7 linked regions of the Homo sapiens genome follow. The protein of the gene in region 1 purifies or fractionates together with the protein of each later gene. This does not show direct contact. Each region holds a gene or a part of one and is shown in the gene's direction. Other genes may lie near its edges.

The links.
Region 2: the proteins of LTN1 (region 1) and DHCR7 purify together in Homo sapiens (affinity purification with mass spectrometry; one large-scale study listed by BioGRID and IntAct). This does not show direct contact.
Region 3: the proteins of LTN1 (region 1) and RIC3 purify together in Homo sapiens (co-immunoprecipitation; one large-scale study listed by IntAct). This does not show direct contact.
Region 4: the proteins of LTN1 (region 1) and HIGD1A purify together in Homo sapiens (affinity purification with mass spectrometry, with the first as the bait; one large-scale study listed by BioGRID). This does not show direct contact.
Region 5: the proteins of LTN1 (region 1) and NPAT purify together in Homo sapiens (affinity purification with mass spectrometry; one large-scale study listed by BioGRID and IntAct). This does not show direct contact.
Region 6: the proteins of LTN1 (region 1) and IRAK4 fractionate together in Homo sapiens (co-fractionation; one large-scale study listed by BioGRID). This does not show direct contact.
Region 7: the proteins of LTN1 (region 1) and FILIP1L purify together in Homo sapiens (affinity purification with mass spectrometry, with the first as the bait; one large-scale study listed by BioGRID). This does not show direct contact.

Annotation. Positions count from the first base shown.
Region 1 is NC_000021.9:28,926,965-28,931,611, reverse strand, and holds the end of LTN1 (E3 ubiquitin-protein ligase listerin), read left to right. Parts: intron 1-289; coding exon 290-457; intron 458-1,101; coding exon 1,102-1,164; 3' UTR 1,165-3,468; downstream 3,469-4,647.
Region 2 is NC_000011.10:71,433,023-71,436,794, reverse strand, and holds the end of DHCR7 (7-dehydrocholesterol reductase), read left to right. Parts: intron 1-821; coding exon of another isoform or gene 822-955; coding exon 956-1,420; 3' UTR 1,421-1,604; coding exon of another isoform or gene 1,605-1,685; 3' UTR 1,686-2,384; downstream 2,385-3,772. UniProt on the Homo sapiens protein: Oxidoreductase that catalyzes the last step of the cholesterol synthesis pathway, which transforms cholesta-5,7-dien-3beta-ol (7-dehydrocholesterol,7-DHC) into cholesterol by reducing the C7-C8 double bond of its sterol core.
Region 3 is NC_000011.10:8,105,142-8,108,906, reverse strand, and holds the end of RIC3 (protein RIC-3 isoform a precursor), read left to right. Parts: 3' UTR 1-2,851; downstream 2,852-3,765. UniProt on the Homo sapiens protein: Molecular chaperone which facilitates proper subunit assembly and surface trafficking of alpha-7 (CHRNA7) and alpha-8 (CHRNA8) nicotinic acetylcholine receptors.
Region 4 is NC_000003.12:42,781,308-42,785,379, reverse strand, and holds the end of HIGD1A (HIG1 domain family member 1A, mitochondrial), read left to right. Parts: intron 1-59; coding exon 60-109; 3' UTR 110-2,472; downstream 2,473-4,072. UniProt on the Homo sapiens protein: Proposed subunit of cytochrome c oxidase (COX, complex IV), which is the terminal component of the mitochondrial respiratory chain that catalyzes the reduction of oxygen to water. May play a role in the assembly of respiratory supercomplexes.
Region 5 is NC_000011.10:108,156,053-108,161,044, reverse strand, and holds the end of NPAT (protein NPAT), read left to right. Parts: coding exon 1-165; intron 166-2,025; coding exon 2,026-2,103; 3' UTR 2,104-3,830; downstream 3,831-4,992. UniProt on the Homo sapiens protein: Required for progression through the G1 and S phases of the cell cycle and for S phase entry. Activates transcription of the histone H2A, histone H2B, histone H3 and histone H4 genes in conjunction with MIZF.
Region 6 is NC_000012.12:43,764,351-43,769,380, forward strand, and holds part of IRAK4 (interleukin-1 receptor-associated kinase 4), read left to right. Parts: intron 1-3,752; 5' UTR 3,753-3,761; coding exon 3,762-3,922; intron 3,923-5,030.
Region 7 is NC_000003.12:99,827,833-99,832,553, reverse strand, and holds the end of FILIP1L (filamin A-interacting protein 1-like), read left to right. Parts: intron 1-1,948; coding exon 1,949-2,140; 3' UTR 2,141-3,743; downstream 3,744-4,721.

The DNA of each region.
Region 1 (4,647 bases):
ATTTAATTATTAAGAGAGTTTTATCAAGCAACAAGCTTAGACTATAACACTTTAAGTATTGGTCCAGAAGCCTTTAAAGTATGTCTTTAATGGAGAAAAATTACATCTGGTTCCAAAAACTTGGGAGGTTATTTTAAAAACCAACATTCATAAGTTGGGAGACATGAACATAGCCAAGCAGATTCTCTTCTTTCAGAATTGTAATTCAACTTTAAAATTTGTGAAATTGAATAAAAATAAAATTGGTGGTTATCAGTGTGTAGTGACTTATTTTTCTTCTTGTTAACAGAATGGAAGTATTATGGAAGGCTTAGCTTTATGGAAAAATAACGTAGACAAACGTTTTGAGGGTGTTGAAGATTGCATGATCTGTTTCTCAGTCATTCACGGTTTCAACTATTCCCTTCCCAAAAAAGCCTGTAGAACATGCAAGAAAAAATTCCATTCAGCCTGCTTGGTAAGTCTAAAGAGAAATTAACTTACTTATATTTTATGTATTTTATACACATAAACACACACACACACACACACACACACACACACACCTACACAATGTCTAACTTCGGAAGAGAAAATGTGTGTTAAACTTAATTGTAGCTAATGGGAGATATATTAAAAAGTGATTTTTTAAAATCTGCCAAAGATAATTAGCAGTTTACTGAGACTGGTAGAATCAAGGCCCTCTAATAAATGGGTGTTTCCAGTGACCTTTTACCACTCAAGAAGTAGAAGGTCTTCTGAGATCTAGACCATGAAGGAGAGTACAGGAGTTGGTACTGGAAGCCATCTGGCATCAGAGCCCTGTGCTCTTTTTAAACATACTGAAAAAGAAGTTGCCATTTGTTCATTTGTTTCACAGGAGATTTCTTATATCTTAGTGATTGTGTGCATGAGCCTAAGTAGGAAGAACTTAGTGTAGCCATCGGAAGTAATACTCAATTTGTGTTAATTTTGGAGATAACAGAAAGAGCAAAAATTTTATTGTTCTTCCCTTTTCACTTTATCATTTGAAGGTTACTATAGATGTATGTGTACTTTATGATGTATGTTAGAGGAGAACTTTAAAAGTTCTTTTAGTATTTAAAACCTTTTCTTTTTCAGTACAAATGGTTTACATCTAGCAACAAATCCACTTGTCCACTGTGTCGTGAGACGTTTTTCTGAGATTTTTTTCACTGGAAGGGATCCCTGAAGTACATCAAACAAAGGCATTGGATTTGGATCCGTCTGAAAGTGTGGATGTGGGGAAGCCAGTGAGCATTACTTTTAAATAGGACCTTCTCTGGAAAATTATTTTGGTTAATGTAATAATCCTAAAATCAGGTTTACTTAACTTTAGATTGCTTTGTAAATGTTTGGAAACTTTCTTTTACAAAAGAATATTACATATTTGAGAGAAAATATTTCTATTAATGGTTTAATTTCTTTGTATATTTAAAAATAAATATGAAAAACCCCTAAATTACAGAATTGGAATTTGTGAAAAGATTGCACAACTATATTATTGATAAACCCATTCCGTTTGTTGATCTGTGTTTTAGAATAGTCCAAGTGAAGCAAAACGAACTGAGAGAGCTGATTTACATCTATAGATATTTTAAGCCTTATTTATTAGTTATGACAATAAATTAGTATTCTGATATTTGTAGATTATTTTAATGATAAAAATGACACTAAGCTATTAATACGGCTTGTCTTAAGATATCTGGAGGCATGCTCTGAAATCCTATATAAAAGAGTTTAAACTGAACTTTAAGGTGCCTCCATTTATCAAGGGTTATGAAACTCAGAAAATTAAATTCTTGATGCTGACCTTTTTGCTTGTGGGAGAATTATTTCTATATATTAGTGAAATTTGAATTGTAAACTTGTCAGTGAATTTATCACTCTGAGCGAGTCTCTAGAGGGTGAGAATTTGAGAGAAATAGTAATTTGATTATTTCATTCATGAAGCGGAGTGGTAGTTATCCTTCTATTGAGAGGGAAGAAATAAATGAGTATTACTGAAACTTAAAGATCAGTGGAAAAAAAAAACATTTAAAAATGTTGTAGGAGACTTTCAATTTTGGAAGCAAACTGAGCTATTCTTACCAGCCAAAGTTATACTAAATAAGAGACTTGGGGGAGCAAATGTTTTTCAGCCTTCAGAAATGAAAGTTAAGGATTTTAGCACTAGGTAAAATTCAGTATAATAGGCTGAAGTGGAGTAAGTGAAAACCTGCCTTTTGCCACTCTTAAAAATTGTGCCCAAAATATAAAAGTGTGGAACTTTAGAACTTGGAATAATTTTATTGCAGTCTTCCATTACATGGAAATAGCATATCTAATATCTAGGTTACTTGAGAGACCAGCTAATCATCTCTGTTGCACATGTTTAATTGGCAAAAAGCAATTCATGATAAATAAAATTACTGCTTTCCATCTACTGGGTAAAATGACTATTGAAATAGTATGAATGTGGTCAGAGGATTATAGTTGAGAGTGAAGTACTATGTGTGAGTTATAGATCTCTCGAATTATATTTATAGATGCAGTGTCCTGCCCAGTTTTGTTTGCCTCCTACATTTTACTGTAAAATATTTATTGTCTTCTAGCCTTGAGCCTCTGAGGGTCAGTAAGTGAAGTACAGATAGCAAAATTTTACTACCTCGTTAACCCTTTTCTTAAAATATTCTCTATCTTTCTATGTCTCTTTCTGACATAGTAATCCCAAAGGATTGTGTTACTCCCCGTGAAAGTTATTACTTTTCCTTTAAAAATGGTTTTATAATAAGACTGTTTAAAACCTTTCCAGTATTGGTACATCTTGGCTTCTGGCCCAAACCCCAAGCAGAAAAGAAAATGGAATAATGGAGCATTGTTTTTCCACATTAGTATTAGGGCATCAGATTCTTGGTGAAACACTATAATTAAGTAGTTATAATTAAATAACTGTTCTTCATACTTAGGACTCTTAATACATTTCTTTAAGACTTGTAAGTATAATTGTAAAGCTTGTTAACTGTTTATATACTAAAGAAAAAGCTTTACAAGATAAGACTGAAATTCAGAATACCACATCTGTACAGCGTTGACAACTCTAACTAAAAGGATTACAGCCCTTAAAATTTTAGCTTAAGGACATTTTAAAATTGCATGAGATTAGCAAAATTATTAATTTAAAACCCCAAAGTAAATTGCAAATTTTAAAATTTATTTTTGACTCTTTTATCACATGCTCCAATGTATGTACATAAGTGTCTGTGGCTTAAATAATATGTTGTTATTTGATACATTTTTGTGGTGCAAGTAATTAATGTTATTATTTGATTGTTATACCATATGTGCCCATTAAAATTCTTTTTAATTAAAAATATTTCAAATATGCAGAAAAATAATAATATAAATGCCCTTGTACCCTTCACATACTATTTTGCCATATTTGCTTCTGATTTTTAAATAAATAAAATGTTACTCTTTTGTACTTCTCCCTGGCGCCATTCTCCTCCTTCTTTCCCTAGAGCTAACGTACTAATTCTGAAGTTGGTGTGACTCCTTCCTGTTTAAGATTTTATACTTTACCATGTGTTTTTATCCAGAAACAATGTATAATAGTTAACAAAAATTATGTTAATGATGTTTTATGTATGTAATCTTTTGTAACCTGATTTTCCACTCAACATAATGCTGTTTAGTGTCATATCAGTTTACTTACCAGTTCCCTTACTAAAGATTGTTTAAATTGTTATTTTTTTGCCATTTTGAACAGTGCTGCAAGTGTACATTCTTGATCATGTCACCTCATGCAGATGTGCTAGATATTCTAGACATATGTCTAAAAATGGAATTTCAGCCCGGCACGGTGGCTCACGCCTGTAATCCCAGCACTTTAGGAGGCCGAGGTGGGAGGATCACCTGAGGTCAGGAGTTTGAGACCAGCCTGGCCAACATGGTGAAACCCCGTCTCTAGTAGAAGTAAAAAAAAAATTAGCCAGGCATGGTGGTGTGCACCTGTAATCCCAGCTACTTAGGGAGGTTGCAGTGAGCCCAGATCGTGGCACTGCACTGCAGCTTGGGCAACAGAGCAATCAAGACTCAGTCTGAAAAAAAAAAAAAAAAAAAAAAAAAAATTTTATATATATATATATATATATATAAAATAAATAAAAATGGATTTCCAGGTAGTAGGATGTGTATACTCTGTCACTTTAGATGTCTTCAAATTGCCCTCCAAAGTGATATGCAAGTTTGCTCTCCCAGCTGCAGTTTAAGAGAATTCTGGTTTTCCTATCTTGTCACCAACACGTAGTCTTATCAGAATTTTTAAGTTCTGCAGTCTGAAAGCTATGAGATAGTAGCTCTTTGTTTTAACTTATATTTCCTTAAGAAGCCTAGCTTCATTTCATATATTGGTCATTATTTGACAGATTTTTGTCCATAATCTATACCTATTTTTCTGCTAGGTTACTTGTATTCTTACTGATCATAATGCTTTAGCTCATAGGACTTCTAATATGTGGCTTGTCTTTAACATTTTCTGTGACTATCTTTAATCTCACAGAATTTTTCGGTTAAATTTAATCAGACCTTTTTTTTTTTCTTTTATGATTGAGCCTTTTTTATGTTAGGTTTTAAAATTTTATTTAACTGAGGTTTAAAAAATTCCGT
Region 2 (3,772 bases), on another chromosome or scaffold:
GTGTAAGAAAGAGATGTATTTTTCAACTCATGTGATTGAAGAGTGACAAGTCCAAGATCTTCAGGGCAGCCTGGAGCCCCAGGGAAGAGTTGATGCTGTGCTTAAATAGAAGGTCACTTTTTTTTTTTTTTTGAGACGGAGTCTCGCTCTGTCACACAGGCTAGAGTGCAGTGGTGTGATCTTGGCTCACTGCAACCTCCACCTCCTGGGTTCAAGTGATTCTCCTGCCTCAGCCTCCCGAGTAGCTGGGATTACAGGTGCATGCCACCACGCCCAGCTAATTTTTGTACTTTTAGTAGAGATGGGGTTTCACCATGTTAGTCAGGCTGGTCTCAAACTCCTGATCTCGTGATCCGCCCGCCTTGGCCTCCCAAAGTGCTGGGATTACAGGTGTGAGCCACTGTGCATGGCCAGAAGGCCACTTTTTAGCAGATTCCCTCTTCTTTGGGGAAGGTGGGTCTTCTGTCTCTTAAAGCTGTCAACTGATTGGATGAGGCCCACCCCCATTGTGAAGGGTCATCCACTCTGCCTGGTTGACTGATTAACATATGAACCTCATCTGAAAAATGCCTTTACAACTAGTGTTTGACCAAATATCTGGGAACAATGGCCTGGCCAAGTGGACACGTTAAATTGACCATCACAATATTAAATTCAGATTATATTTTTAATACTGTTACATATTTGATGTTTATGCTATATGTCATATATATAGGGGGTATATATACACACACACATACACACACAGACAGGTAGAAGGCAGGTAGAGTTACTCATTTAATGACCACAACAGCCCTCAAGGTTGGTGCTTTTATTCACAGAAGAGAACACGGAGGCAAGGCGTGTGTCAGAGGCAGAGCTGGGGTTTGACCCCAGGCCGCTGGGCCCCCGAGCCCACACTCCTGTCCTCTCCCTGGGCAAAGCACCGCTTGACCCCTTCCCCCTCGCCCCCCAGGGTCTGTACTTGGTGTACCACCCCGTGCAGCTGTCCACCCCGCACGCCGTGGGCGTCCTGCTGCTGGGCCTGGTGGGCTACTACATCTTCCGGGTGGCCAACCACCAGAAGGACCTGTTCCGCCGCACGGATGGGCGCTGCCTCATCTGGGGCAGGAAGCCCAAGGTCATCGAGTGCTCCTACACATCCGCCGATGGGCAGAGGCACCACAGCAAGCTGCTGGTGTCGGGCTTCTGGGGCGTGGCCCGCCACTTCAACTACGTCGGCGACCTGATGGGCAGCCTGGCCTACTGCCTGGCCTGTGGCGGCGGCCACCTGCTGCCCTACTTCTACATCATCTACATGGCCATCCTGCTGACCCACCGCTGCCTCCGGGACGAGCACCGCTGCGCCAGCAAGTACGGCCGGGACTGGGAGCGCTACACCGCCGCAGTGCCTTACCGCCTGCTGCCTGGAATCTTCTAAGGGCACGCCCTAGGGAGAAGCCCTGTGGGGCTGTCAAGAGCGTGTTCTGCCAGGTCCATGGGGGCTGGCATCCCAGCTCCAACTCGAGGAGCCTCAGTTTCCTCATCTGTAAACTGGAGAGAGCCCAGCACTTGGCAGGTGTCCAGTACCTAATCACGCTCTGTTCCTTGCTTTTGCCTTCAAGGGAATTCCGAGTGTCCAGCACTGCCGTATTGCCAGCACAGACGGATTTTCTCTAATCAGTGTCCCTGGGGCAGGAGGATGACCCAGTCACCTTTACTAGTCCTTTGGAGACAATTTACCTGTATTAGGAGCCCAGGCCACGCTACACTCTGCCCACACTGGTGAGCAGGAGGTCTTCCCACGCCCTGTCATTAGGCTGCATTTACTCTTGCTAAATAAAAGTGGGAGTGGGGCGTGCGCGTTATCCATGTATTGCCTTTCAGCTCTAGATCCCCCTCCCCTGCCTGCTCTGCAGTCGTGGGTGGGGCCCGTGCGCCGTTTCTCCTTGGTAGCGTGCACGGTGTTGAACTGGGACACTGGGGAGAAAGGGGCTTTCATGTCGTTTCCTTCCTGCTCCTGCTGCACAGCTGCCAGGAGTGCTCTGCCTGGAGTCTGCAGACCTCAGAGAGGTCCCAGCACCGGCTGTGGCCTTTCAGGTGTAGGCAGGTGGGCTCTGCTTCCCGATTCCCTGTGAGCGCCCACCCTCTCGAAAGAATTTTCTGCTTGCCCTATGACTGTGCAGACTCTGGCTCGAGCAACCCGGGGAACTTCACCCTCAGGGGCCTCCCACACCTTCTCCAGCGAGGAGGTCTCAGTCCCAGCCTCGGGAGGGCACCTCCTTTTCTGTGCTTTCTTCCCTGAGGCATTCTTCCTCATCCCTAGGGTGTTGTGTAGAACTCTTTTTAAACTCTATGCTCCGAGTAGAGTTCATCTTTATATTAAACTTCCCCTGTTCAAATAAGTGGCTGTGTGGTTTCTGACTGGTGAATGGGCCTGACTCGTGAATGGGCCTGACTGCAGGTCTGACTGGTATACGTGGGCTCTGTTTCTGGTATGAGAAGGGATGTCTGAGAGAGATGCTTGGGTCTCGGCGTCAAAGCATTGGGTGCCCGTGGGTGCGTGGCGCCACCCTGCCCCTCTCCCTCCCATGTCAGCCCTTTGCTGGGGCTGTTTTTGGGTTGAATGTGGAGAGTATTCCATTCCCCCCCAAGGAGATGAAACCAGGCTTGGCCACCTGCCCCCGGCAAGTGAATGGAGAAGCCAGAAAGAGTGCCAGGTTTGTCTTGCACCTGGAGAAACAAGAGTTTCACACAGGCAGCCCAGTGCCCATGCCAGGGCAGGGGGCCAAGCTCAGAGTGGCTTCATTGCTTCACATGAGAACTGGTCCCACAGCCAGGCCGCCTCCCAGACAGCCTGGAGGGTATCGGAACTGTGACCCGCCCAGGCTGACTGCTGAGCCCTAGTGTTCGTGCACTGGTGCCCCACCACTACCTGTTTGAGGATATGGGCCTGAGGGGTCCCGTGCATCTGTGCTGGACACACACCACAAGAGTGATTCAAATGCCGGGGAGACGGGAGCACACTGCCCTGCATGGCTCTGAGCGGAGTGGACCCTGCCTTTTCTTCCCAGACATTGCGTAAATTCAGTTCACAGAGGCTGGGGTGTGGTCACTGTGAGCTCAGATCCGGGCCTCCCTGCCTGCGTTGGAATCCTGGCCCCAGCATTTAAGAGCTGTATGACCTTCAGGGGACCTACCCTCTCAGTGTCTCAGCTTCCTCTTTTGAAAGATGAGGGTCATTATTATCTTCCTGCCTTGATGTGAGAAGGGCTTTCCAGGCCAATTTGCTGGGAGAGCTCTTGGTTCAGATGTGGACCTGCCTCTGAATTGGCTGAGGTTAGCTTTTGGTTTGGTTTCTGTTTGAGCAGCTTTGTGCTGGGCTGCAGGTTCCTCTTCCATGCACTGTGTGTTTGTACAATGGGTTCTGCAGGTGCAAGGCTGTGGCCCAGGCTCTGTCCCACCAGACACGTCTGCCCTCACTCATCCCCAGATGGAGCCAGCTTCTCTCTGGGCGAGAACAGGGTGATCCAGGAGCTCAGATTAGACAGTGCCAGCCTCTACCATTCTCCATGTACAGAGAGCATTCTGTTCCCAGTGAAGCCACAGTGCCTGATCCCTGGGAAGCTGGCCTGGCCTTTGCCCCCTTCCAGAATGAAGGACGGCTCGGACCAATTGCCAGGGCCATCTGAACTGTGCTTTACAGGGCATGGCACTGCCCTCTGATAAGGGGCAGGCATCCAGTACCCCAGGACAGGGTCAGGGCAGGAATCCAGTGGGCACATTCAGAGAG
Region 3 (3,765 bases), on another chromosome or scaffold:
GGGGTTGATTCATGAGGAGAGCCCTGGGTTCCTGGCTCAGGTTTACTTTTGGCCTTAGGATAGGATTCCCTTATTAGAGATAAATACTGCTGTTCTCTTCTAGCTCATTCATTCATTTAGCAGTCAATTGCTCAGTGCCAGGTGCTAGGAACAGAGGCTCAATCTCTACCCTCAGAAAACTCAGTGTGACGAGAGAGAGCCTGACAGATAAAATGAACTATGACCCTGTAAGAGGGCTCAGGATCGTGAATCCTGCAGGCAGAGAAACATGAGCCATAATCTGTCCCTGCATTTTCTAGCTGTGGAATCTTGGGTCAGCTCCTTAACTGGTCTGAGCTTTGGCTTCAGGGTAGTAAAGGGAGGGGTATTAAAGGTCCTGGTTAAATGAAATCATCAGTGTGTGTAAAACAGCATTGGTTCTAGCTCATACATGATAACCACTCATTAAGTGGTAATTATGTTTTTATTATAAGGGCTATGCTGTAATTCAGACATGGGCCCAAAACTACAGGAAAGATAAATTGTTTTTGCTAAAGTATTGCCAAGAAACTTCACAGTTTCTTGGGAGGTGGGCCTTGAGGCATGCAAAGAACTTCTTCAGGTAGGCAAAGAAGAGAGGACACTCTTGGCAGAAAGAGTTGTTGAAAAAAGCAGTAGGGTGTGAAAATACATGGATGTTCAAGTATTTTGGTGAGGCTGTTATGTAAAGTGTTGTTGGTCTTTGGGGAAAATTGGCTTATGGAAATTCCTGCCAGAAGTACTAAGCCCTTATGGTGGTTCTTCCTGCCCTAGCTCTTGGTTGGTTTATATATAAGGAATATATTTGTGTATTTATATATCAGACATTTGGATGTACCTTTCAGTTATTTAGGATTTAGAAAATTCTTTTTGGATTTTCCAGAATTATTTTATCCTTCGGGGATGACAGTTATATGTGTATATACAACCCAGGATGACAAAATCATGGGTCCGGTTTTTGTTGCCAGGGCTGCTGTCTCTTTTCTTGCGGTCTTCATTTCTCACGAGGGTGCTGGGAACTTGATCAGTCCCCTGGCCTTTTGGCACTGTGGCAGAGTACACAAGTCATACCTTTATGGACAGTTAGCTCACAAAACAACTGCATAATCTGGGATCACTCTTGGTAAATCAGGTGGGTGGTGCAGCCAGGAGATCCCCTTTCCTGGTCACAACAGGAGCACAAAGAAACCATTATCTCCATGACTAGCTCCAGAAGCTGGGCCCAGGGAGTCGTGATGAGGAGTGGAGGTGTATTTGGCCTGTAGAATCAACGGCCTTTGAGAACCATACAATGCACCTTATATGGCTTGGGTGATCAAATAACTTAAGGTCCAAATTCAAACACTTTGGAAAAAGGGAGCTTTAATATAATTATGCCAAGGTGATAGGCATAAACTAAGACTGTCCTGGACGTAGGGTCACCCCTGTCTATAGCCATTTAAGATTTTTGAACCTGATGACTAAACAAACAAAACCCTCTTTCCTTTTTAGAATATCCTGTATGCGCTATTTCCCACCAGAGGCAGAGGCCACAGGAGATAGGCCATGGTTCAGGTAGGAAATGCTCTTGGTCACATCAGAACTCTAGATCTGGGGGAATAAACAAACCCGAATTATTACCACACTCTCAAAGTTCTCTTCAATCTGGACTATTTGTATTCCAAAGAAAAATTTAGTGCTTTAGCTATTCAGCAATATTGAGAAAAAACATGAACACATTTATGACTTTGCCTTGACCATTGACTTTTCTAAAATGTGCTTCCTTTTCCTTTATTTCCCTTTTTTTATACAAAGAAAATAGCCCAAATTTCTCCTCTTAGGTCATTCCTTAACCTCTCAGAGAACCAGTTTCCCCATGAATTGGGAATAATGCTCTATTTACAGGGCTGTTTGGATTAAATAAGATGCTGTTTATAAAGTGTCTGTGCCAGGGCAAAGCATGTGGTAGGTGCTTGGTGACAGCATGATCCCTGTCACCACTCTGTCAAGTCCAGTGTTGCTGAGATGTCACACCTGACACCCTCTAAGGCTACCCTGATTGCCAGGAGTGGCCCAGGGCCCTTCTGCAGTCTCCGGGTGCCTTTAGTTATAACCTCTTGTCTGGGTCAGACCATTAGCTTTCATGTCTGCTTCTAGCTACAACTGTAGCCTCCCTTCCTTTTGCCTTCAAATCTGCCACAGCTGCCCGGCAACAAAAAAAGATTCCTAAGCATCTCGAGGTCCTGTTTAAATGGGTTAGGGTCCAAGCAAGCCCTGAGACATCAAGTGGTTGGGTCTTTTATACCTTTTTCATCTCTACAGCCCTGTTCTCTTCCTAAGGCCAGGCCCACAGGGGATACTGAGGAACCACCAGCCCCTTCAGGCGGCACAGCAGACCCTGAAGAGAACTGCTCTAACTTAAGTACCTTCTGACTTCACCATTTTTCCAGCCTCTGGGTGTGGTTCTGATGAACCTTAAACTTGAAAGGCACAGGCCAGAGGAAGGACAGTGTTGACCCACATGTCATTGGTGAGGTTATGATCTCTTTGCTATTATCACCTACTTACCCACCTGAGGCTCCTAGGAAACAATGAATGAAAGGTATAGAAAAAAATTAGGAAGTAAACAGGGCTTTTTTCCCCTTTATGAAAAAAGTACACAGAAGTGTTGAAACGATTCAAGTTTAATTTGTTGATATATGTGTGTACTTAGACAAACACTAAATTCTACAACATACATAATGTCAACATGGGAAAATACCAAGTTTGTCATTGCACATACCAATAAATAAATACATTTGCTCCAGAATACCAAAGTTTATTCAAAAAGTCAATAAAAGCACAGTTTTGCAAATTTGTCTAAAACGCCAGATAATCTTGAACAAAAATAAAATGTCTGACCACTCCAAAATAGGAAAAGACAATCTTGTGCAAATAGACATACACAGTCTAGGCATTGTGAAAACTGGCTGTGTTCCCAGCAAGAGATACTGCACCCTCCTGACCGAGCAGTCAGGCTTCCCTTTCCTAGCCATCCTAAGTTGCGTTCTAGGAAACTCTGGATCTCAGCCTCATCTCCAGCTTTGCCTGGACCTTGCTAGGGGGAGGGAGGGACAGGAGCACAGAGGAGGAGAGGAGAGGGATGTGATGTCTTTCTTAGGAAAGAAAAAAAGGCACAGTGATGAGCTATAAAGGTAGTGATGAGAGCTATAAAGGTAGTGATGAAAGCAAGGAATAATTTTCATTCACCCCAAATCCTACGGCAAGCTTTGACAATGTAACATCTTTATCTTGTGGTTAGGAAAATGGACCTAGAGAGATTATGTGGTTTGCTCAAAATCACATAGCTACTAAGTGCAGTAGTGCTTTCTATAAGACCAACTTGCCTTTCCACTTGGTTGGAAAATTTAAAAACCAAACCTGTCGTAATCTATCTGTTCTGCCCCTCCCGCCTGTATCATGAGATGACTGAAAATTCCAGGTGGCCATAAACTCAAACAAGAGCCTAGCCCTTGGCTTATTACCGGTGGCTACTACAAACCTACAGACCAGAGCCCAGGGTAGTATAGAGTCCCAACTCTGGGCCCTGACTGCAGGTCATTCAGGTCCCAGTCACAGTGAAAGCAGACTCATTCAGCTATCTGGAGAAGTGTAATCTGAGGGCCACTTGGCATCCTGAGTTAACACAGGGATGCCGCAGCTGGGGTAAGGAATTAGAGAAGGGAAGGCCAGTGTTACTGCAGTAAGAGAAAACCAGGAAGTCCATCT
Region 4 (4,072 bases), on another chromosome or scaffold:
TTTATTTTTGAATATTTAAGAAAATACTGAAATGCTTAACTAGCATTCTTTTTCTTTAGGTATGGGCTATTCCATGTATCGGGAATTCTGGGCAAAACCTAAGCCTTAGAAGAAGAGATGCTGTCTTGGTCTTGTTGGAGGAGCTTGCTTTAGTTAGATGTCTTATTATTAAAGTTACCTATTATTGTTGGAAATAAACTAATTTGTATGGGTTTAGATGGTAACATGGCATTTTGAATATTGGCTTCCTTTCTTGCAGGCTTGATTTGCTTGGTGACCGAATTACTAGTGACTAGTTTACTAACTAGGTCATTCAAGGAAGTCAAGTTAACTTAAACATGTCACCTAAATGCACTTGATGGTGTTGAAATGTCCACCTTCTTAAATTTTTAAGATGAACTTAGTTCTAAAGAAGATAACAGGCCAATCCTGAAGGTACTCCCTGTTTGCTGCAGAATGTCAGATATTTTGGATGTTGCATAAGAGTCCTATTTGCCCCAGTTAATTCAACTTTTGTCTGCCTGTTTTGTGGACTGGCTGGCTCTGTTAGAACTCTGTCCAAAAAGTGCATGGAATATAACTTGTAAAGCTTCCCACAATTGACAATATATATGCATGTGTTTAAACCAAATCCAGAAAGCTTAAACAATAGAGCTGCATAATAGTATTTATTAAAGAATCACAACTGTAAACATGAGAATAATTTAAGGATTCTAGTTTAGTTTTTTGTAATTGCAAATTATATTTTTGCTGCTGATATATTAGAATAATTTTTAAATGTCATCTTGAAATAGAAATATGTATTTTAAGCACTCACGCAAAGGTAAATGAACACGTTTTAAATGTGTGTGTTGCTAATTTTTTCCATAAGAATTGTAAACATTGAACTGAACAAATTACCTATAATGGATTTGGTTAATGACTTATGAGCAAGCTGGTTTGGCCAGACAGTATACCCAAACTTTTATATAATATACAGAAGGCTATCACACTTGTGAAATTCTCTTGTCTAATCTGAATTTGCATTCCATGGTGTTAACATGGTATATGTATTGTTATTAAAGTAAGTGACCCATGTCAAATGTCTTTTATTTATTTCATGAGGAAAAGCTTTCTGTAGAGGAACAAATTTGAGAACAAGTTTCAGGAAATTGTCTTTTTTGTTGTTGTTCTCTAATCATGTTCTCCTTTCTGTTTCAACGATTTTAAAAATATTTTACTTTATGGTATGTTTTATTTTTTTTCCTTTTGTGGGTAATTTTTGTTCTATTGATTATCCATATAAATTTTTTTTTTTTTTTTTTGAGACGGAGTTATTCTCTGTCATCTTGGCTGGCGTGCAGTGGCACGATCTTGGCTCACTGCAACTTCCATCCCCCAGGTTCAAGTGATTCTCTTGCCTCAGCCTCCTGAGTAGCTGTGATTACAGGCATGCACCAACATGCCTGGCTAATTTTTGTATATTTAGTAGAGACGAGGTTTCACCATGTTGGCCAGGCTGATCTTGAATTCCTGACCTCAGGTTATCCACCTGCCTCGGCCTCCCAAAGTGCTAGGATTACAGGCGTGAGCCACCACGCCCAGCTGATTATCCATATAATTATAACACTCTTCTATTTATTTTCAGTCACCAATAATTCCTTTTGAGCAATATTTAAGCCTAGCATATTTCTTCCTTCCCTCCTCCTCTACTAACCAGTTCTGGTCGATATATTATTGGATTTTACTCTTATACTGTTTGTTTGTTTGTTTGTTTGTTTATTTTGAGACAGAGTCTTGCTCTGTTGCTGAGGCTGGAGTACAGTGGTGTGATCTGAGCTCACGGCACCCTCCACCTCCTAGCTTCGTGCGATTCTGATGCTTCAACCTTCCGAGTAGCTGGGATTACAGGCATGCGCCACCATGTCGGGCTAATTTTTGTGTTTTTAGTAAAGGCGAGGTTTCACCATGTTGGATGATCTTGAACTCCTGGCTTCAAGAGATCTATCTGCCTCAGCCTCCCAAAGTGCTGGGATTACAAGCATAATCCACCACACCTGACCTACTTTTGTATGTTAAATGTGATTATACTTCTCTTTGACTTGTCAGCTTAGCTTTAGCTGATACACTCTGGTGCCCAACTATTATTGTATCAGTGAACTTCCACTTTCTTTTCCTTTTCTCTCAATTTTTGTTGTATCATTCCTACCTTGTGAGGACATATAATATTTACATTCTGTTGTCATCCTCACATTTCTTAGTTCCACAGTTTAAATGTATTTGAAACTCAAAACATTCCCATTAATCTCTTGGTCAGCTGAAATTAATGATTTAATAGTTTCCTTAAAAAAGACTCATGGAACAATTTCCCTAAATTTTTGCCATGTCAAATATGTTTATCTGTAGCCTTTACACAGTAAAAACAATTTGGCTAGATAATACAATTCTCAGTTCATATTTTTCTTTGGAATATTAAAGTATTGCTATAGAGAAGCCTAAAGTCATGTGACATTTTTCTTACATAAGTGATTTGATTTTTTGCTTGGCTGCTCAAATTATTCCTTTATCAAGTCCAATAACTCTAACAGGTCTTGGTATTGACCTTTCTGGGTCAGTTTTCACTACATTTTCAGAAAATTTTCATTCTATTTAATAGATGAATACTCTTGGTTTTGTTTAAATAACTAATTTGAGAGTCATTGATCTAGACAAATGGCAGAGGATAGGGGGAGAAGAACAAGTGAAGGGTTAAGATGTTAATGAGTGTTCATGAGAAATTTGTGGGATTGTGTGCCTGAAAAGAATGGTAAATGGTACATTAGGTGGTTCAAGTGGATGTGATACTATTTTTTATTGAATGAGAGCTGGGTTCATGGTTCTGCCACTCCTAACCAAGCAGCCATGGTTTCTTATCTATAAAATGGGGACAGTATCAGTGGCGTAGGGTTGTTGGGATTAAATACAATACTGACTATAAAGGGCTTACTTAGCATAGCACCCAGTGCATTAGTAAGCTCAATAAATGGTTGCTGTTTCCATTATTACTGTGTTAACTGTGGGAATGCAGTAGCACAGGAGACACATGAGCCTTGCTTTCAGAATTTATAGTCTAGCAGGGAAGGCTGGCATTAAATAAGTGATTACAATTGTAGGGGCCAAGGGAAAACTTTACCTTCACCCTCTGAAGGTTTACTGAAAAATCAACTGACAAAAGGCAGATTATTAGGAGAAAAAACATGCAATTATTTTAATGTGTATATCACAGGGGAATGGCATAATGACTACTCAGTAACCCAATAGGGTACAGATGTTTATATATCCTTCTTCATAGGGGAAGGGGAGATGGAGGAAATGTGGCAATTTGAGGGATAATGAGTTATTTTTAGGGGGATTCAGTGGACTTAAAGAACATACGATGGCCTAAGACAAAGTCTGTTTGGCCTACAGGGCAGATAATAGTTTGTGACAAGTCTGTCCAGATATGTTGACAGATTTGTCTCTCTTCCTGCAATATGAATTAAACTAATGAAAACTCCGTGCCGGTGCAGTGGCTCACACCTGTAATCCCAGCACTTCGGGAGGCCGAGGCAGGCGGATCACTTGAGGTCAGGAGTTTGAGACCAGCCTGGCCAACATGGTGAAACCCCCTCTCTACTAAAAAAAATACAAAAATTAGCCGGGCATGGTGGCATGCACCTGTAGTCCCAGCTACTCATGAGGCTGAGGTGGGAGAATTGCTTGAACCTAGGAGATCACGCCACTGCACTCCAGTTTGAGCAACAGAGCGAGACTCCATCTCAAAAAAAAAAAAAAACAAAAAACGGAAAGGACCAGGAGTAATTTTCCCCCCGCCTTTGGCAGGTCTAGACTTTAAGCAGATAAGGAAACTTCACAGAACAGCTTCATGGCGGGGAGGGGGTAGGAGGTCAGAGAGACCTTGAGGCTGCATCTTCAGTCCAGCATGTCAAAGCATCGTATTTTGGGGTATTTGTTTCTGAGTCCCAACACAATAAAGGATGATAATTATTAGGTAGAGGATGCAACAGGAACATCCGGCTGGGGGAACCTAACCCAGGGTTGGGGTTGGAGAAAT
Region 5 (4,992 bases), on another chromosome or scaffold:
TCAGCAACTCCTCTGAAAGATAACACACAACAGTTTAGAGCATCTTCAAGGAGCACCACAAAAAAGCGGAAAATTGAGGAATTAGATGAACGTGAGCGAAACTCTCGTCCTTCTAGTAAAAATCTTACAAATTCATCAATACCAATGAAAAAGAAGAAAATTAAGGCAAGTTTGAAAGTTTTAATTTCAAAACCACACCTTTTTTTTCCGCTTTAGTGATTAGCGAATTCAGCAGTTCTTGCCACAACAACTTGACTGAACGTTATGGCTAAGACAGCTTTTAGTTTTCATTGACAAAATACATAACCATGATCACAGGACCAATAAGCAGTAGATGCAGGATTCAAACTCAGACTTGTAGGGCAACAAAGCAGTCCAGCAGTGTTAGTGTAGTACGCACAAGGTGTCTAGGTGAAACAGCATTTTCAGGAAAAACTGCTGAGGCATTTGTTTATAAACATCTTTCCGGGGGAAAAGAAAAAGTTTTTCTTTCTTTCTTGGTAGAACTCAAGTTTTTTCATGAGCGTGACATAGTCATGAAAGATTGGGAAACAATATTAAACACTATTGTGTAGAACTACCAAGTAATAAATGACTTTGTTCTTAGATGTTCAGTTTTTTTTTTCCCCCACGTCTTGTAATCTCTTCCATAGGCCCTTAAAAATGTTAGCATATTAGAGCAGTGGAAAAATCAAATTTACGTATGTTTTTCCATTTTTTTGAGAGAGGGTTTCACTCTCGTTGCCCAGGCTGGAGTGCAATGGTACGATCTTGGCTCACTGCAGCCTCCGCCTTCCAGGCTGAAGTGATTCTCCTACCTCAGCTTCCCAAGTAGCTGGGACTACAGGCATGCGCCACTGCATCTGGCTAATATTTTTTCCTTTTTTTTTTTTTTTTGAGACAGAGTCTTGCGCTGTTACCCACTAGAGTACGGTGGCGTGATCTTGCCTCACTGCAACTTCCGCCTCCTGAGTTCAAGCAATTCCCTGCCTCAGCCCCCTGAGTAGCTGGGATTACAGGTGTCTGCCACCACACCCAGCTAATTTTTGTATGTTTAGTAGAGATGGGGTTTCACCGTGTTGGCCAGGCTAGTCTTGAACTCCTGACCTTGTGATCCACCCACCTCGGACTCCCAGAATGCTGGGATTACAGGCATGAGCCACCACGCCTGGTCATTTTTTCTGGTTTTTTTTTTTTATAGAGACAGTCTTTTGCCATGTTGCCCAGGCTGGTCTTGAAGTCCTGAGCTCAAGTGATCTGCGCACCTTGGCCTCCCAAAGTGCTGGGATTACAAGCATGAGCCACTGCGCCTGGCCTTATGTTTTTTATTTAAGCATGGTTGTCTCTAGGAAGGCAGTGCAGGGATAGCATTGATAAATGAAATCCATTTATTTTCGATTTGGTTAGCTGTTTAGTAAGTGGATTGAATAGAAAGAAAGTGCTTAAAATATCATAGAGGAAGTATGGTATCAGGGAAATAATTTAGGCTTTGTTGCCCTACAAGTCTGGGTTTGAATCCTGCATCTACTGCTTATTGGTCCTGTGATCATGGTTAAGTCTGTAGCCTTTCTGAGTCTCAGCCTCATCACTTGACATGATATTACCAGGTATCTTAGGTTGTGAAGTCTAAATGTAGTATACATAAAGTATCTAGTGTATATTAAGTTTTGGAACTGATAAGTACCTGTAACCCTAAACATCTGTTAGTAAAGCTTTCTAAGCAGTAATAACCACCTAACATAGAAAGCATGTTCTATCTTGTCTCATTCAACATTCAGACACTCTGGATTTGTATCATGTCTTTTGCCATAAACTAACATTCAGGTGCCATTGAAGTATATTTAAGTAACTTTGGGTTTATAAAACTTGTCTCTACTTCTCTATAGAAGTAAAATTCTAATAGACTAAAAAAGTTTGACAATTTTAGTAGTATGTGAAAGAACCCAATATACTGTTTTAGGTGACTTACTAAGAAAGCATTTTGGCCTTGTTTTGAGTTTATTTTTTCTTTCTCTTTTTCAACAGAAAAAGAAGCTTCCCAGTTCATTTCCAGCAGGAATGGATGTAGACAAATTTTTGTTATCATTGCATTATGATGAGTAAACATTCTGGACACATAAGAACAGTAGGTGTTAAAAACTCATATCCCTTAAACTGAGTGTAGGGAATGGGATATTGACAGAATCTGAAAGCATGACCTGCACTTTCATTGTACTGAAACTTCACTTTATATCTAAATCATGCTGTTTCTGAAACAGCTTCCTAGTTTGTAAATAGACTTACTTGGTATATTTTTATTTTGGGAAAAACGTTTGCAGAAATGTAAGTAAAGCCAATCTGCAAAACTGTATAGCTTTGACAATTCCATATTGTAAATACTGTGTAAATCTTGTTGAAATAGAGGTTAAATCAACCTAATGTTCTTACACTGTGTTTTTTGACTTCTTATGATCCCTAATTCTGAGACTTACTCATCTGGAATAGTTTCTCACTTGTTTTGGAGGAAAATGATGCTTATTCTTATAAATTACCTTCAGTAACTATTCAATAAGACATTTAAATACACAATCACTAAGTACTACAAAATAATAACCACCTCAACTGATAGCAAAATATCTAATTAGAAATCAACAGTTTGATGAGTTTTTTTCCTAGAGTGAATACTACCCCTTTCTTATAATTGCTGTAAGTATTATATTTCTGGAATTTCACACTTTACCTACTCTGATCACTCTGTTCTCTTTGTTTTAAAGAGAGAATTTTGTAAACCATTTATTGAATGTTCTGATCTTTCATTTATAACTTAAGATTTTTTACAGAACTTTAAGTGGTTAGACTATTGAGCCATAAAATTTTGGTTTGTAGTAGAGATTTCTCGGTATGTACTTTTCCCCTAAATGCTGGGGATTTAAAGAATTGCACTAATTCATAGAACTCTTTACATTGTAGTGACCAATGCACATATAATTTAAATCTTGTGTTCTATGTGAGAGTTTATGTGGAGGATTATCTTCTGGTGTTGTGTCCATCATAAGATGTAAAAAGAGAAATCATAGTTTTATATTTTAGTTTCTCCTACAATGGGTATGTTAAATAACTATATCTATACTTAGATATAGTGCATTGTCTGTGTCCCTTAAAGTGTTACAAAGAGTTTCTCTCAAAAGGTCCTTAAGGAGAGTGAGAGATGAGAGAGGTGCCTTCTCTGTATTAGACTCACACACATCAGTCCAGTTGAAGAATTGGTTTAAACTTTTAAATGAGAACAGAAATTATAATTAGTACCTGACCAATTGTGCCTAGATATTAAAGTATGTTCTCTTTAGTACTTTCCGTTCAATTAAATATCAGTATATTAGGGATTTTTTTCTACAGGTGTATATTTTGTTGAAGAGTCACTTTCCTCAACCATTTTTTTGTACTGGGCCTTTAAAAAAATAAATCCATCCAACTTTAACACAACATTTCTCAGTGTAGAAATCATGTCTTCTTAATTGCTGAACCTTACTGCAAAAACTTGTGATGTAAGAAATTTGTATGGTGTGGCAGTGGTCTATTCCTAAGGAACTAAATATCATATAGTTAATGTTTATTTAACTCAGCTTGAGACTGTACTACAGTTAGGTTTGAATAAATATTTTCATTAACTTCAAAAGTTTGAATTACTTTACATTGGCAGTCTTGTTTAGAAACTGATTAAATTCCTTTGCAAGTCAGTTCTTTTTGGGAGTTTGTACAATGCTGAAAATCACAGTTTTCTTCTTATTCAATTCATAGTTGTATGTACTAAGCACTGAAAATTCATATACAAATAAAATAAGTTTACTTTCTTCAAGATTCATAGTTAACTAACCAGGAACTGCTAAGTAAAGTTGAAAGATAACTTGTACTTGGAGCTTTTATGTTCAAGAGCAAAATCATATCCCCATTTTACCTTAAAAGTCCACAGGTCCTGAACTTAATTATACTATTGTACCTGGTAACCTATTTGAATACTTAAATGCCCAGTGACTGCATTTCAGGGTTGATGTATACTACAACAATCCATGGCTGTTTTTATAATTACATATGAGGATCCAGTCTGTTGTTTGGATATTACTTAGAGGTTAATGCAGTCAGTGTATGCCAAATCTGAGAAGTGTTGTTAAGTAAAATCTTGTTACAGATTTAGCCCTGGATATATTAGAACTATAGTGTGTTGAAATTGCGCATAAGAAAAGCATCCATCAGCATTCATGCAAAGGCTACATGTCATGACTATTAGGAGTAATTTCAAAAGCATATTACTATATATTCTGCATTCATCCTTTCTCTGGTCATCATCTTTTAGGCTCAGGCCCAGCTTTCTGAAATTACATAAGTTTTGACTTTATTATTAGTTATTTTGCTGCTTCCTTTAAGCAATGGACTCATTGTGTACTTTTTTCTTTTTATAAATGTTATCATTTTGTCATACTTTTGTCTTTTTTTCGTAAATTTGTATCTACATTGTTGAACACATGGTACATATAGCTTCCTAATGCTTTTTGTTTTGTTTTTTTTTTTTTTTTTTGAGAGAGGGTCTCACTCTGTTGCAGGCTGAAGTACAGTGGCACAATCATGGCTCACTGCAGCCTCGATCTCCCAGGCTCAAGTGATCCTCCTACCTCAGCCTCCCGAGTAGCTGGGACCACAGACATATCCCATCGCACCCAGTTTTTTGGGTTTTTTTGGTTTTTTTGTTTTTTGTTTTTTGTTTTTGTCTTTCAGAGAGATGGGGTCTCACTATGTTGCCCAGGATGATATCAAACTCTTGGACTCAAGCAGTCCTCCTGCCTCGGCCTCCCAGGTGTTGGGATTACAGGCATGTGAGCCACCTCATCCAGCTGCTGCTTTTACTTCCAATAATATAAAGCTTTTTCCTTTTTTTAGCTATTACAAACAAAAACAGCAGTGAGCATTTTTATAAACATTTGTTTATGTTAACTATTTCCTTAGAAATTTTAGAGAGTA
Region 6 (5,030 bases), on another chromosome or scaffold:
GAGGCAGAGGTTGCAGTAAGCCAAAATTGCACCACTGCACTACAGCCTGGATGATAGAGCAAGACTCCAAAAACAAAAACAAAACTGTAAACTTTATTTCTGAACATAAGCCCATGAAGTTCAAGACACTTTTGTAAGCGATAACACCAGCCATTTGGGCCATCCCTAAAGAACTGAGAGTCCTGGGAATTTAACCACATCAATGAAGTCTTTTTTACATTATTAACTGAAGAAAAATGGGTGCTCTATGAAGATTTTTCAAGATTGGGAAACAAAAAGAAGTCAGAAGGAGACAAATCAGGACTGTAAGGTGGATGCCTAATGATTTCCAGTTGAAACTCACAGAATTGCCCTTGTTTGATGAGAGAAAAGAGCAGGGGCATTGTGATGGAGAAGGACTCTGTGGTGAAGCTTTCCCAGGTGTTTTTCTGCTAAACATTTGACTAAAGCTGTAACAGAAAAGCTTTAGTTTAGAAACACTTAGAAAAGCTACTGTTTCTCAAAACCCTCTCTAATAAGCAGATGTTACCATTCTTTTTCCCTCCAGAAAGTCAGCAAGCAAAATACCTTGAGCATCCCAAAAACCTGCAGCCATGCCCTTGCTTTTGACTGTCTGCTTTTGCTTTAATTGGACCACTGCCACTTTGGGGGAGCCATTGCTTTGATTGTGCTTTAGGATCATACTCGTAAAGTCATGTTTCATCTCCTGTTACAATTTTTTGAGGAAATGGTTTAGGATCTTCATCCCACTTGTTTAAAGTTTCCATTGAAAGCTCTGCTCGCATCTGCAGCTGATCTGGGTACAACAGTTTGGGCAGCCATCAAGTGGAAAGTTTGCTCAACTTTAATTTTCAGTCAGAATTGTATAGGCTGAACTAGTTGTCTATGGTGTTCACTGTTGGTTCTGCTGTTAATTATAGGTACTCTTCATTTAGGGCACAAACGAGATGAATGTTTTCCTCGAAAATCGATGTGGATGGTCTGCCGCAGCAGGCTTCATCTTCAACATCATCTCATCCCTTAAAATGAGTTACTGATTTGTACACTGCTGATTTTCTGGGGGCATTGTCCCCATAAATAAAGCATCAGTGATTTCACCATTCTTCCAACCAACCTCCACCATAAATGTGGTGTTTGTTCTTGCTTTAGTTTTAGCAGAATTCATGTTGCTGTGGTAGAGGTTCTTTTCAAACTGTCTTATTCTTCTCAGTGTCTCAACTAGATCCTGTTTAGACATGAATGATAAGTTAGTATGAGTTTATTTTGGAAATACATTTTGCAAAAAAAAAAAAATTGAAATCCATGCATGGTTTTTGCACGATATGCATTTTCCATGAACTCTTTGAAAACCCCTTATATATGAGAATACTTACATAATGAGCATTCTTTGCTGAAACCTCTCTCCTAAGCTCCAGACCACATATATAAGTACTTGGTATGAAGGCTCCTAGATAGTGCCAAAGGTAGATATTTCACATTTAACATGAGCCAAAAAAAAAAAAAAAACTTCATTCTATCTCCCTTTCTTCTAATCGCTCATCTCTAGTGAAATTGTTTTGATTTGGCCTCCTAAATGTTTTGACGTTTTACCTCTCCATTCCCCTACCCTATACTTTTTCCAAGCTCTCCTTTCTGCTCACCTGGATTATTGCAGAAGTTTTCAAACTAATTTTCTTGCCTCAATATACATCCCTTTGATTTTTATCCAGAGGAATCCACTTAACCATATAAGATTATTTAACATCCCTCCTAAAAATCCTAAAGTGGCTCTCCTGTAACTTTTAGTTTATAAGTTCAAACTCTTTGTCTTAGCACATGAGGTACATGATGATCTGGCCCTGCTACCTTTCCACCCTCATCTCTTCTCACTTAATCACAGGCATCCTGTGGTCCAGCCATAGCAAGCTCTTTGCCTGAGACACACATGCTCTTACCTTTTCCCATGCTATTCCCTCTGCCTGGAATTTTCTTTTGGGCTTATCCTCATTCCCTTTCATTCATCCTTCCAACCTCCTACTCCAACCAAATCTGTCTTGATATCCCTATTCCAGACTGCCTCTGCTTGATGCCCCTTTTCTGGGCCCCATAACATTCTTGCAGCATTTATCACTCCCTGTCACTGTTTGTATCCCCTGGTATACTGAACAGCTTGGAAACAAAGATTTTCTCTTCTCTGTGCTCCCACTTGTTAGTACAAAGACTGACATAAATATTTTCTGAATGTATTCATGAATGAAAGGAAAGGAATGGTCTTTCTGAAATAGAGAATGGCATGAACAATGCATTGTGTTATAAAAGCAGAGTTGTATGGCATGACTTTTGGAGTCAGACATAATTGTAAGTCCTGGATCTCTCACTTACCACCTTTGTAAAATAGAGATGATAAAACTGTACTGGGAAATAATTTAGTTGTTCCAAAAGTAAATACTGAACAATACCATTATCTACAGTATGCAAGTCACTAGGTGTATATTCATGAATAAAATTAGCATGGTCCTGAACTCATGGATCTTAAAATCGAATATGGGAGACAGTAAACAGGTAAACAAATAAGTATATGATTACAAATACATTGTGCAGTGATGAAAGATAATTAGGTGAAGGGCAGCTAGACCTATTTAGATGTGGTCAAAGAAGTCCAAAGAGAAGAAGTGAATACTAACATAGAAGCCTCTGATACAGAGAAGCTTTTCGCTTTTTACTCTTTTTGATAGTTTTAGAATGTTGTTCCATATGAACACATTATTTACTCTAAAATTGTATTTTTAAAATATATATAGGGAAGCAAAAATAATTGACAGAAGAATATCTGAGTCTATTTGTCTTAATTGGAAGGAAAGATCATTTCCTATTGAGAATGAGGGACACGCAGAACAAATAAAATCCACATAGAAAGAAGTAAAGGTATGAAATAGTCACTAAGGACTATGAGAGAAGACAAGTGGAAGGATTAACGGCAGTGTTGAAGGCCCTGTGGAAAGGGGGTTACCATAAATTTGTATTCACATCAGCAACCCTGGTGTACAAGTAAAGTTGTTAGATTTATCCCTGGCTGCAGCTCTCCAGGATGGAGTAGCAGAAGTAAAGGGGGATTGCAGAAATAAAGATTCTGTCTAGAGAGTAGTTGAAGTGGTGAAGCACAGGTTTTGGCGTAGTAGCAAATGAATTGTGGTCAGGCAGATCTCATGGACTCAAAAAATGTGCAGAGGTCAAGGAAGAGCAAAGTATGTGAAAAGTGGGTGGGTGGACCATATCTGTTAATGCTACACAAATCATTTCAGTACGTTTTTTTTTTTTACTTCTACCAAAGAATGTTGCATAAATTTTAATTGTAAATAAGTACTAATTGAGAAACATAAATTGAAAGGTAAATGTTTTTATTAATAGATTTGATTTCTGAATATGCTAATTCTGATAGTTTGTTGATATTACTCTTAAGAATTTTTCTGGTAAGTTTTTTGCCCCTTTCTATAAATTTTACTAGGAAAATATCAGTGTCAGAAAAAAGTCCTCCGATTTTTATTGCTATTAATGGGTGGAAAAAGGAAGCAAACCCAGAGGATAATTGGACAAATGAATTACAATTTTAATTTCATCTTAGGATATCAATGACTTGACTTTGGAATGTTTCTTTATTATGGTATAATCAGTTGCTGACATTTCATATGATATAGCAAAGTGTGATATATAAGCTTACAGATGTCATCTCTAAAAGTACTGTAAAATTTTAATGAGATTTTTCCATATTTTAGGAATAGAAGATGAACAAACCCATAACACCATCAACATATGTGCGCTGCCTCAATGTTGGACTAATTAGGAAGCTGTCAGATTTTATTGATCCTCAAGAAGGATGGAAGAAGTTAGCTGTAGCTATTAAAAAACCATCTGGTGATGATAGATACAATCAGTTTCACATAAGGTAACAGATAAAATTCTTTGTATTTTTAAATTCTTACATCACAATATGGAATGATTAATTGGTATAAGTACTGTCTAATGTGGCAGTTTAGAAAGTAAACCTCTCCACTATGGAGGAGACATTGGTAGTAGGTAACCTCTTTTTGATTGTTCCTTTTGCAGTTTTGTCTTCTTTGTCCCATATGTCAATAGGGCTAATACTGTGATCTCTCAAATAAGTTTTTTGGGTTAGAATCAAGATTCCCACCTTTGCTGTGGTTCCCTGTTTGGCAAGCCAAGTGAAGTTCACTCTGCCTCACACTTCTCATTTCCAGATTGAAGGAAAATAAGAATGTTACAAGAATGTCTGGTAAAAATCTAGAGCTTAAATTTCAAAGTGTGTGAATCTCTAACACACTCTAACAATGTATTTTGGGACTTTTTCAATTTGACGTTTTAAAGTTGTTGCTTACAAGTGTACACTTCTGTGCACAGAATTCTTAAATCTTAGCTAGGATTTCTCAGTGCTGTCTTCAGATAATTTCAATTTTTCCTTTTTACTCATCTCTGCTCAATTTAGTGTAAAATATGCATGCATATTTTATTTTTGTCAGTCATTGCAGTTAAAACCTATGTCAAAATGTTTCTTTGGTAGCAAAAGGAAAAGAAGACTATTTGTTATTTTCAGCATTAATCTGGGAAAGAACCTAAAAGACTTGGCTCCCTTGCAGGAAATATTTCCTCATAAGAAGAGCGAACATGTTAAATTACTTGAAAGAAGCTTAAGTTTAAACTGTGTTAAGCCAATGTTTAAAGATAATTTTTTGATATTACTGTTAAAAACTTATGGAAGATAATTGGGGCAGTGGTGGCAGGAAGATAAAGCTCTTCTCTTTTTTTTTTCTTTTTTCCAAGACTCATTCCTGTGACAGAAAAAGCTTTTCTTTACAGAATAATACCTGCAAATAATTGTGAAAAGAATGGTAGAATGAGAAAAATACCTATTTGCAACCACCAATGAGTAACTGATTCATGCAAGGCTCATCACTGAACCTAAAAGCATAAGGTGAAAGGTGGTTGTTCTCGTGCATGTGAGCAGGATATGCACAAGATTTTAAAGTATTATAGGC
Region 7 (4,721 bases), on another chromosome or scaffold:
TTTTTTTTTTAAAGATTTGGGAATGGCTGGGCGCAGTGGCTCACACCTGTAATCCCAGCACTTTGGGAGGCCAAGGCGGGCGGATCATGAGGTCAGGAGATCGAGATCATCCTGGCTAACACAGTGAAACCCCGTCTCTACTAAAAATACAAAAAATTAGCCGGGCGTGGTGGCGGTCGCCTGTGGTCCCAGCTACTGGGGAGGCTGAGGCAGGAGAATGGCGGGAGCCCGGGAGGCGGAGCTTGCAGTGAGCCGATATCGCGCCACTGCACTCCAGTCTGGGTGATACAGCGAGACTCCGTCTCAAAAAAAAAAAAAAAAAGATTTAGGAATGACAATTGGGGTTGTTCTGATAAAATAACAAGCCTTTGCTGCCATCTAGAGGTAAAAACTACGTAATGAAAATGGAGTTACCTAGAAAACAAAAGCTTGCACATCAATGGTGTAGAAACAAGTAGGAGCCCAGTAACCTTCAGGCAGCTGGGCCTGAAAGTATCAGTGACCACCATTCCAAGCCACATTTTCTTCACCAACACGTATCAGTGTTGCTCAAAAGAAACGAGCTCCACCAATACTGTGTGTCATACCAATCTGTCTCGGCCTTTCACAGTATTGAACTATGCATACCCAGGTAGGCTAGAGTTCCAGGTGAAGAAAAAATAAAGCTTACATCTAAAGGAAGTTCAATTATGGCAGCACTTTTCCAAGTGTGGTAGGCCAACCACCTGAGTTGAAGAAATCACTCTGAGAGTTTATTAAAAATGTGAATTGCTGGACATATCCACAAACCAATGAATTACAATGCATAGGAGTAAGATTCAGAAATCTACAATTTAAAGACGATCCCAACATAGATTTTTGAACACTAAATTGGAGACCCAATCTAAATCTTGATAAAGTTACAGGACATCACAGAAATCCATCTTGGGAAGGCTATTATTAATGCTATAGTCACAATATTAGCAGACTTGATTAGTCTGTCACTGACTTCAACTGCAGCTTCTACTGCTCATGGCTTGGATAATATGGTTGTTCACAGAAATGTCCTGATCTCCAAGTTGTTTCCTTCCTTTTTCGTCTTTTAAAACAATTTAGTGTTCCTTTTTCTCATAGCATACTTACTATAAAATATGTGGAGAACACAGAAAATGTAAGAAAAATCAAAAGTACCTGTAAGTCCACTAATCAGGGTTAACAACCAATAGCATGGGTGCATTTTCTTTTAGTATTTTTCTCTTCACATGTAAATAATTAAAGCATGTACACAGTTTTAAATTCTACTTTTAACATATCTAAGTAAACGTTTTCCTGAAGCTTTGGCCTCATTAACAAAGCATGTTGTCATAATTATACTATAATTCATTTAACACATCCTATTCATTTAACTGTCCATTTTTCATCATTATAAACAATGCTAAAATCAAATATCCTTGACTGCCTCTCTACATCCTAGAAAAGATTCATAAGGCTCTTGATACATACTACCAAGCTGTTCCACTAATCATCATTGGAGCTGCCCATCTCACTCATACTGTGAAAACTTTTAAAAGTCTGAAGGCCCAAGTCAAATGCCATATTCTTCATGAAGCACTCTTAAAGACAATCTCATTCGAAATTAACCTTTCTCTGGCAATCTCATGGCTCTTTGAGATTAATTTGGGACACTACTCTTGTATATGTCCTACTACACCGTGATTGCCAAATATCTATTCATCTCTGTATCTACCACTATCTCTATCAAGAACTGTGCACACAGCACACATTCAACACACACCAGATTACTTTACTGACATTCTTTTCTTCAACCTGACGATCTTTGATCTGATACATCCCCAGAAACTGGTGCTTTCAAAGCCAAATCCTCCAAACTGACTCCATGTCCTAAACAATTTCTACTTCTCCACCAACTGTACCATTAATTACCTTTTGTTCTCTTGTTTAATTCAAGATCAAGGAGGTATGCAAGCAGAGAATCCCAGCACGGATCCCTAAACCGAAATCTACAGGCATCACCAAGATTTCCACTAAAGCCCCCACAGTGCCTATGGATAAGCCTATTTACCAAAATGGCTGTGGGAAGCTACACATCGTGAGAACTGTCACCTCCAACACCTTCCTCCACGTGGGAGGGAGAAGGTAACTCATACCAATGCACTGCCTGGATACATTCATCTACAGAAATATGTGGAAAGCTAAAATTACCACTATGAAAGGCCAAAGGACCATCTCTCCAGGAAATGGTGAAGCAGCTTTGTGGACCTGATGAAGATCATCCCCCAAAAAGCAGCACGTCTACAATTATTTTACTTCTATATGTGTATATGCACACACAAACACTCGCAGGCCTAGACCCACACCCAAATCTACCCATTTCCTCATCCGACATATAATCTAACCCAAAGATGAACTATCTAGAATCAGCCTGGGATAGGACTGAATTCACTAGAACAGTTCAAGAGTTTTCTGGTGAAAACAGAAGTAATTCTTCATTCTACAGAACTTTGCTGATTAATCATATTTTGCTAAGAAAAGGTGATAGCAAAAATTCCTAATCTGAGTCAAGAAAATCAGATTATTTCCATCAAGATGACAGGACAATTAAAATCACACTTTAAGGTCTAAAACTATGATTTCTTTATGACCAGGAGGGAAAAAGCAAAGTGATAATTCTTAAAGGAGGAAAAGCATAACAAAAGTGAATAACAGCCGAATATATCCTTTGTGCAGAATACCTGACAATCACTGGTGTAGTAAGCATACCTGACCACTGGCACTTAGTCTCAGTAACATTGAGATATTTTAGGGAGACATGAATCAATATTCCAGGTGCTTGAAAAAATACAGAATTTATCATCTCACAGGACATTGTTTATTCATATCTCTTCTCTGAATAAACACTATCGAAAATCAGTTGATTCAACAAAAGCTTGGGGTTAGGAGACTCAAATTCCAATCCTAGATTTTCATTCATGTGACAACGAGCTTTGCATTCATCAATCTAAGCCTTGAGTTTCCACATGTAAAACAGGAAAGTGAAATAATTCCTCAGGTCCCTTCCAGTTCTGATAACCTATGAATATGCCCAACTATTAATACAAAATGTTGAATTCAAACAGTCATCTATAAGGGTAGACACAGTCCCCTGGCAGAAAGCTAAAGCAATTCTTTACATCACACTGAAAACTCTCTCATTGAATTGAGAGAAAGGTGTGCCTGTAATTCAGTGTGGACAGAGTAATACAGGACATTTTAAGACAAGGCATGTTTGACACAAAAGGCAGTTCAAAAAACATTTCAAAAAGCTTCAATCGAGGGGGGAAAAAAATCAATGGAACGACACTAAACATTTTTTGTGATCCTTCACTAAAAACTGGAAGCATGACCCTGGAAGAAATCCTCATGGTTAAGGACTGCTTTAGCCAGCTGCCCTGGGTTGGAGCCAGCAGAGCAAGAGTAAAGGAACTCCCATTCCCCATACTTATCTAACTAAGTCCACCTCATTGCACTAATGCCACTGTACAAACACCCCCAGGCCCCTGCAATTTCAAGGAGGAGAAGGAGCTAGAGGCCTGGGCAGCATTGAAAGGGATGATGGGCAGCATTGAGAGGGATGATGGGCAGCATTGAGAGGGATGATAGGCAGCATTGAGAGGGATGATGGGCAGCAGTCCCAGCAGGCAAGTGGCAGAGGGCAGTAGGGGGAGGTCAAGTGAATTAAAAGCCTGAAATGGAAAAGTCGAAGTGAAAGGAAAGCAGGAAGAGAATAGTAGAAGGGGATGGACTACAAAAGAAGGTGAAGACTGGGCATGGTGGCTCACGCCAGTAACCCCAGCACTTTGGGAGGCTGAGGTGAGAGGATTTCTTGAGGCCAGGAGCTCAAGACCAGTCTGGGCAACTTGGCAAGACCTTGTCTCTCCGAAAAGAAAAAAAAAAAAAAAAGCCAGGTGTGGTGGTGCACACCTGTAGTCCTAGCTAATTAGGAGGAAGAGGCAAGAGGACTGTTTGAGCCCAGAAGTCCGAGGCTGCAGTGAGCATGATCACACCACTGCACTCCAGACTGACTGACAGAGCAAGACCTTGTTTGTGGGGAAAAAAAAAAAAAAGGGTGCAGTGATGAAGCTCTAACATCAAAAAAAAAAAAATACACGTATGTACAGAGTGCTTAGTATTGTGCCTCACATAGAGCAGGTATTTGATAAATCTAGAGTGAATAGAGAATGAGTAAATGAAGAAGAGAAGGCCATTCAGTCAAGACATTTTCTCACTTGAGAAAACATGCTAAGAGATAGCAATGGTATGACAGGGTTAGGAAAAGTAGTTATGCCCAGGTGACATTCAACATTGGTAATTATGCTAATAGAAAAAAAACCCATTGGAATCCCTTAGTGAAAACCAAACAGGTTGAAAAGAAGCATAAAACAGGAAAAACAACATGCACTAACAATAGTCCCAGAAAAACAAAATACCTTGGGAAAAATTTTACTCTGAAATGAAGCACAAAATACGTTGTATGTTGAAGCTTTCAAAATTGTTTTCTCCCATGTCAGGAGACTTCCTAAAGTACATTTTTATCCAAGCTAGCATAAGTTTAAGAGGAAGCACAAAAAGAGGGACAAGATAGTATACAAAGTACTAAAAAATTTAGGTAGAAGCCAGGCACGGTGGCTCACGCCTGTAATCCCAGCACTTTGGGAGTCCGAGGCGGTGGATCACCTGAGGTT